Linked DNA regions of Homo sapiens. The protein of the gene in region 1 interacts with the protein of each later gene in a pairwise test. Each region holds a gene or a part of one and is shown on either strand. Other genes may lie near its edges.

The links.
Region 2: the proteins of CUEDC1 (region 1) and UBE2E2 interact in binary tests that used the Homo sapiens proteins (3 or more experiments, as listed by UniProt).

The regions. Positions count from the first base shown.
Region 1 is NC_000017.11:57,953,841-57,957,753, reverse strand, and holds the start of CUEDC1 (CUE domain-containing protein 1), read left to right. Parts: upstream 1-2,341; 5' UTR 2,342-2,529; intron 2,530-3,913.
Region 2 is NC_000003.12:23,528,077-23,531,989, forward strand, and holds part of UBE2E2 (ubiquitin-conjugating enzyme E2 E2), read left to right. Parts: intron 1-3,913.

The DNA.
Region 1 (3,913 bases):
GCACATAGGAGGTTGGGCTGGAAAGCAAAAGGGACATCTCTGGAAGAGCAGAGACAATAGGGCCTGAACCAGGCAGAAGTGGAGGAGTGAGGCGGTGAGAGAAGGAGAAATGAACAGGATCTGATAACCAGTGGAGGGCCAGGGAAGCTGCACAGGAGACAGAGGCTTCCAGCCTCTGAGCCAGAGGTGGATTCAGGAGAGTAGGAGGAGGTGGCTTAGGTAGGGAAGCGGTCTCAGTCGCCTTTAGCCTCCTTGAGTTTTAGGTGTCTGGGAGACTCACAGGTGGCCCTCTGTAGGCGGCTGGTGTGAGGGGCTGGAGCCCTGGGGGCTCAGAGGCAGTGGTGGGAGTGGGTGGAGGTGTCTGGGGGTGGGGAAGTTGTGAGAGGCAGGGAAGGGGTCTGAGAAAAAGCTTCCAGAAGGACAGACCCAAAAGGAGGAGTATGTTAGCAAAGCCCAAGAAAAGTGTGCTTCAAGGAAGAGTGTCCATTAGAGCAACTGGTTTTATTAATGACTATAATAATAATGTATTTAAAAATTTTACTAGCCGGGCGTGGTGGCACCCACCTGTAACCCCAGCTACTCAGGAGGCGTAGGCAGGAGAATTGCTTGAACCTGGGAGGCGGAGGTTGCAGTGAGTTGAGATCGTGCCACTGCACTCCAGCCTGGGTGACAGAGCGAAACTCCGTCTCAAAAAAAAAAAAATTATGAGCAATCCATAGGCGAGTGCAAATGGAAATCTCCAGGTTTGCAGATGCATTTTTCTGCTCCTGAAATGCCAAGGTGACAGGAATGAACTGCAGAGGGATCTTGCAAGTAAGCAGGAAAGTGACAAATGAACTGCACTATGGGTAAGTGTAAGGTAATACACTTGATAACATAATCTAGACTATATTGGCCAGGCGGACAAATCCTGAGCTCTCAGTTACAACCTGGGAAAGGAGCCAGGAGTCAGTATAGAGGCATGGGTCTGTCCCTTCGGATTAAGAATCTTTAACCTGGGGCCTGAAGACCATCTTCTGGGATTTCAAGCACCCTGCCTCCCCCGGAAATTGAATGCACCAGGGAGTGAAGTGTGGGGAGAGAGGAGCAGGAGAGAGGAGATCCTCAGAGGGGTTTGGAAACCCAGTCCTGGAGTTCCGTTCAACATGCTAACCTAACGTTGGGCCTCCCCGAGGAGGGTGTGGTTCTGAGGTTTCTCCCCCTCCCAGTTTCCCACCTTGCTGAAGAAACTTGCCCTTGACATGCAAATGATGGAAACACATTGGTGTCTGGGGCACTTTGGTTTGTGGTTTTTACCATCAGCTGTCTCTGAGGCTGAGCGTGTCGATCTGTCTCAGCAAGGCTAGCAAATTGCAAGCGCTCAGAGGAGGGGAGAGGGGGGCTATTCCTGGGGTTCTGGGCCCAGATGGGCAAATGGGTCTGTAAGGCAGACTTTTCCAGGAGGAGGGTGCAGACCCTTTGCAAGTTGTTTGGGGACAGAGCTTAGTTTGCATCTGGCCTTCTTCACCCTCCTCAGATCCCCTAGGTAGCAGGGTGCTTGGTGGTCACCACCTGACCTAGGCTACCTACTCCCAAATTGGAGTCTGAAATGAAAGCACGTGGGAAAAGTATAGCAAAGGTCAGTTTCCCATTTATTAAACAAGTTCTTCCGTGGAAAATCTTCCCAGGGCTCAGCAGCCCTTGAAGTGATCAGGGATGCTGGGGAGGTTGGGGGAGGAGAAAATGGGAGATGGCAGGTGGTATCTGTCGGTGTGGACGAGTGATAGCTTTGATTTGCTCCCCCTTCCCACCATCTCCTGTGTCCTCAGCATTTGATTTGGTTTCCTTTCCGGGGCCCTAATTCCAGGGAGGTGCCCCTCCTCCACACCTGTGTCCCAAGCCCCAGCTGTGCGTCCTCACCCTGGGTTCCTGGCACTGACCTGGAACCTGTCGGGCAGCCCTGCTCTTAGCTCCCCGCGGAGTCTCGGAGGTCTCAGGTCTCCTCCGCCCACCCTCTCCGCAGCTGGGAGGGGCAGGATGCCCCGCACCCCGCTCTGCGCGGGAGGTCGAGGCACCCCGCTCACGCCCTCCTGCCCGCAAGCTAGGGAGTCACTGCGGCCGGGGAGGGAGGTACACGGAGGGCATTTTTCCAGCCTTCACTGGGTGCTCCCCTCTCCACCCCCGGCAACCATGTAGGTTTCCGGACCCCCAGGTCCGCTTCCCTCCTCTCTGGAAAGGGGTCGGCCATAGGGAAAGGGCCCGGGGGCGCCGCAGCCGGGCCCCCGCCCCGCCCCGCCCGCAGCCCCGCTCCTCCCCGCGCGGCCCCACTTGTGGCCCTGCCGGCAGCCGCGCAGGGACAGCTGCATTTCTCGCCGCCCGCCGCTAGGAAGCCGGCCTCGCCTCACTTTCTCCGCCTCCCCGCGCCCCAGCCGCGCCGCCGCCGCCGAGCCTGGCCCCGCCGCCACCGCTGCGGATTGCAGCCCCTCCCCCGCCCGGCCCGCGGCCCGGCCCCTGCGGCCCGCGCGGAGCGGACGCGCGTGGCGCTGCCCGGTAAGACCCCCGCGCTCCCGCGGCTCCCGCCCGGCCCCGGGCGCGGTCCTCGCCGGCGCCCCGCGCGCAATCCCGGCCGCGGCCCCGGCCCAGCGGCCCCACCTTCTCGGGACCCGTTGCCCAGGCGCCGCCGGGAGGGCCGGGCCGTCGCGAGTTTGATTCCCGGGGCTGTCGGCGCGGCTCCCCGGGAGCTCCGCGTGCGGCAGGTCCCCGCCCGCCCTTCCTTCCCGAGCCCCCACCTCATCCCGGGCCCCGGGCGCGGGGGGCGTGCGGGCATCTGGGGGGCCGGGAGCGGGGCGCGCGATTAGACCGGGGGGCGCGGGCCAGCGCCGCAGGGAAGGGAGACGAGGCCTCCCGGAGCCGGCTTCGCCCGAGTCCCCTCTCCCGCCGCTCCCCCTTTTGTGTGGGCGCCCCTCCCCGCAGTGCCCGGGCCTGGGGGCGCAGGCTGGGCGGCGACGGCAGGCGGGGGCGCCTGCTGGGAGCCGAGCGCCTTTCAGGGGGAGGGGAGCTTCGCTTCCTGCCCCCCGCCGATGTCACAGGTCGGCTCAGCCTTTTTTGGTCCCTCCCGGTCCCCTGGGAGCTGTATCTCCCGTCAGCTCGGCCAGGGAAAGTTGGGAATGCGCTGTCCCCGCCCCTGCTCGCCCGCCCCGCCGGCTCCTGTGCCCCAGGCTCTGAGCTCCAAGGGGGGCTGGTGTCAGCGTTTATTCATTCCTCCCTCTTCCTTTTCTCGGTCGCGTGGTCGCCTTACACCCAGCACTGCCCTGCCCATTTCTTTTCCCCTTAAAAAAAGTTTTAGCTCTAAGAAACGTACACTGAAATTAAATTCCTGAGACGGAATGTGTTTTAAGGGGAGGGAGGGTTTAGATTTTCCTTTTTTTGGTGGAGTAGTGGAGTAGAAGATGAGGGGACTCCCTGGGAGTTTAGAAACAAGATGCCCTGGAGGCGATAGAGGATACAAGAAGACCATCCACCGTGCTCCCCACCTGATCCGCAGTCAGCGTCTTGTAGCGAGAGGAATGAGCCTTCCCTGGGTGATCCCGCAGCACCTGAGCCACCTGGCCCAGGAGAAAGGACTCAGGGAGATGTACTGGGCCTTTCACCCCTTTTCTTTATAGCCAGCTGTGCCTGAAGGAGGTGAGGGACCCCAGGAATTCTCTCACGGAGGAAGTCATCTCACCATGTGGTTGGGCCCCTGCTGGATCAAGTGTGAAGCTGGGTCCTCTCTGTTGTTGGGGGTCAGTGCCACTGGTACCTCAGTTTGAATATGGTGCCATCTCTGGGATGGAGAGGTGCTGCTGGGAGAAACCTGGCTCGGGTCTCCAGGAAGCTGGAGCGTGTGCAGCAGGGCTGGGTGTGAAACCCGCTGTCCACTTTCTGCAGCTGG
Region 2 (3,913 bases), on another chromosome or scaffold:
GTTCTGACTCTAAATCCAGGTGGATAGTATCAGAATTGAACTGTGGGACACCCAGCTAGCATCAGAAAATTAGTTGTCAGGAGAAACTCCTCACCCCACATTTGGTCACAGAAGTCTTCTGTGTTGAGAGAGTAGGAAAAACATTTTGATTCTTCCAATCTCATAGAAACCCAGATGCCCTTCAGTGGGTAAATGGGTAAACAAATTGGTACATCTATTACTGTTTGGTTCTTAGTCTTATTTGGAGAAAGAATTCTGCCAAGCTACTGGTTTAGCCAGAGAAAGAGAATTCATTGAAGGAAAATACAGAGTAGGGAGTTTATCTAGAGAGACAGTACACTCTGAAAAGATGAGGCAGGGCGAGCTGCTGAAAGAGAGTGAGCCAGCAGCACCCCGAGAGTGGTGGGTTTTTATGATTTCAGATTTTTTCTTGAAGTTCCTGCCTCTTTCTTAAGTCTCCGCCTTTTTACTTTGTTTAGTTTTCTGCATCTGCCTTAAGTCCCTGCCTTTTCCCTCACCTAGTTCCCGCCCCAAGGTTGTGGGACCCTCCCTTACTATTGGTGTGCACGCGTGAACCCGATGTTGGACACAAATTGCTTCTGCGTATCTCTTAGGAATTTTCTCCTTTGCCCTCTTCCCTTTAGCATGCATCTAGCTACATTCTGGCAGGTTAACTGGCAGAGTGAGCAATCACTGGGGTCTTAAGGGGGATTCCTTTCTGCCTAGGTATTTCCCCTCCTGTCTGTTCATATCTAGCACGCCTGTTTGGGGTGATCCCTGGGGCATGAGATTTTCCAGACTCCTTTTCTCAGGGCAGCCCTTCTCCTCCTCATGTCTGTTTATCTGCCTATTCTACCACATCTATGCCGTGGAATACTACTCATCAGTAAGAAAGGAACAAATTATTGACACGTGCAACAGCTTGGATGGATCTTAAGGGAATTGTGCAGAGTGAAAAGAACCAATTTCAATTGGTTACCTACTATACGATTCCATTTATATAGCGTTCTTGAAATGACAAAGTTGTGGAGATGAGGACAGAGTTGTAGTTGCCAGGAATTGAAGTAAAGGGAGAAGGCAACTATGGCTATCGCAGGGTACCATGAAGAATGTTTGTGATAGAGTTGTTTGTGTGTTGACTGGTGGTATTCACACAAATCTATACATGTGATAAAATTACATAGAACTAAATATACTTAATATGCATGAGTGCACATAAAAATGAAACTGGAAAAGGTCAGTGGACTGTATTAATGTCAGTTTCCTGCAGTATACTGTAGTTATACAGGATGTTTTCATTGGGGAAAATTGAGTGAAAAATACATGGGATCTCTTTATTTCTTACAACTGTACATGAATCTACAATTATCCCAGAATTATAAATTTTTAACGAAAGAACAGAGGCATTGATGCTGAGAGACAAACCGTAGGCTTTTGGATCAGCACAATTGTGTTCAAATTCTGGCTTCCACTTACCACTTGTGGGATCTTGAGCCAGTTCTTTAACCTCCCTTTGCCTTAGTTTCATCATTTTTCAAGTGGTTGCCAATAATATTATTTTCCCTATTGAGTTGTTTTGAGGGTTAATTATCAATATTATGTAAGCCACTCATTGGTTAAATTGGGATCGTAAAAATATTTTATCTTTTCATTTAGCACTTAAAGGGATAGGCACTCTGCCTTCTCCAGAGAAATTTTAATATCACGAGATAGTCTCTGTTTCATTAACTTAGGCTAGTGTCTTTATTTCTTCTTTCATGGAGTTTACTCTGTTGTTCTTTTACTACCTTCCTGAGTTGGACACTTAACTCATTAAATATCTGTCTTCCTTCCTAATGTATGTGTTTGAAACTGTAGATTTCTCTTTTACAACTGTTTTAGCTGAGTCACAAAATTTTGATATTGGCAACCCAATATTTTCATTGTCATTCAGCAATAATAGTAACTGATTTTTTTCTTTGATCCAAGAATTATTTGAAAATGAGTTTTTCAGTTTCCAAACATATGATAGGGGGATCTTTTATATGTAGATTCTGACTTTACATTATGGTCTTAATAATGTCAATTCTTTGAAATATGTAAAGCTTCTTTTGTGGCTTAGCATGGGATCAGTTTTTACAAATGTTTCTTAAATGTTCCTTAATCATTAAGTGTAGGATTGTGTCTTCATTCACTCCCTTGATTTTGTTTATCCAATTGTTCAGATCTCCAATATCCTTACTAATCTTTAGTCTGGTTGACCTATCAGTTACTGTGGTGAAAATGTCCCTCTTTGATTATAGCTATGTCATTTTCTCCTTATAATTTTGCACATTTTTACTTTGTATACTTTTGGCTATATTGTTAGATACAGCACATTCAGAATTGTTACTGTTTTCTTGATGAGTTGTTTATTTTATCAGTAACGTTCTTTGTTTCTAACAATGCTTTTTCCCTTAAACATATTTTGATCTGATAATATAGTCATTTAAGCTGTTTTTGTTAGCTAGTGTTTACACAGTATATGTATCTAGGATTTAGAATTCTCAGGAAAAACATTTCTCTTCTCATTCTAGAGCCCACGCTTTCTTTGGTAAGTTTCTTTGCTATCTCTGTCATAAGGCATATCTTTTCAAGTCCATGCATTTACTGAAAGACTAGCCATTCGAGTTTCCTAATTGATATAAGGGCGCTCAATTCTAAATTCTTGCAACATACAGGCCTAAGATTTCATCTTCTTTTTCCATGAGGGCATCAAAACCCAAACCTCCACTTTATTAAGACTGAGTACCATCTTTTACTCCCTTCCCTCTTCCCAAAACCCCACCCATGGCAGGTGCAGTCTCAGCTTGTTGCGCTTACTATAATTTTTGGTTTTTAATTCTGGGCTCTGGGAATTCCCCTTACAGATTTTGCTATGCATTTTAAAGAATGTTGGTTATATTTTCTTCAACATTTCTAGGCATTTAAGATGTGTATGTAGGTGTCATGGATTATCTGGTCTGGCATGATGCTAGAAGGGCAGTTCTCATTAGAAGTACTAATTTAACCTGAGAATGATGTCTCTTGTTCGACAACCACATAAGTCTCTAGATTTGCCCTTTCTGAGACTTCGCATCATGTAAATTACATAAATCTGGTGTTTGACTGGATGCTGGATGCCCTGGTGGAGTGGCAGCACCTGCAGAGATCTGCATGTGTGTTTTTCTTGGTTCAGAGCTATTTTGAACATAGGGTACCAAAAGACTGTCTTTAGAACCCTGAGATTTTTGTATATTTCAACTTAAAATTTAAGAACATTTATGAACATAATATTAATCAATAATATTCACATCTTATTGCCGTTTACATAACACTTTTATTAAACAGTTTTAGTAGTTATAAAACTGATTTGCACTTAATTATTTTCGTAGTTATAAAACTGATTTGCACTTAATTATTTTCAGTTGAAGTGTTTTACAAATGATATGGTCATGTTTCACAATTACATGTAAGCAGCATACAGTGGTGATCTAGCTATCACAGGGCAAAGGTAGGATGCACTAATATTACGTTTTAAAAATAAAATTTAAGAAGGAAAAGGTTTCTAAATTACAGCTAATTGTAACTAGTAATATAACTAAAATAGTAAATTGTAACTACTATAATTATACTAATATAGTTCTATGAACTGGGCATGTTATTTATATAAATGCCTTAGTTTATGTTTTAAAACTGTGTTATAGGCCGGGTATGTTGGCTTACACCTGTAATCCTAGCACTTTGGGAGGCCAAGGCAGGCGGATGACTTGAGGTCAGGAGTTCAAGACCAGCCTGGCCAACATGGCAAAACCCTGTCTCTACTAAAAATACAAAAATTAGCTGGGTGTGGTGGCGGGCACCTCTAATCCCAGCTACTTGGGAGGCTGAGGCAGGACAATCGCTTGAACCCGGG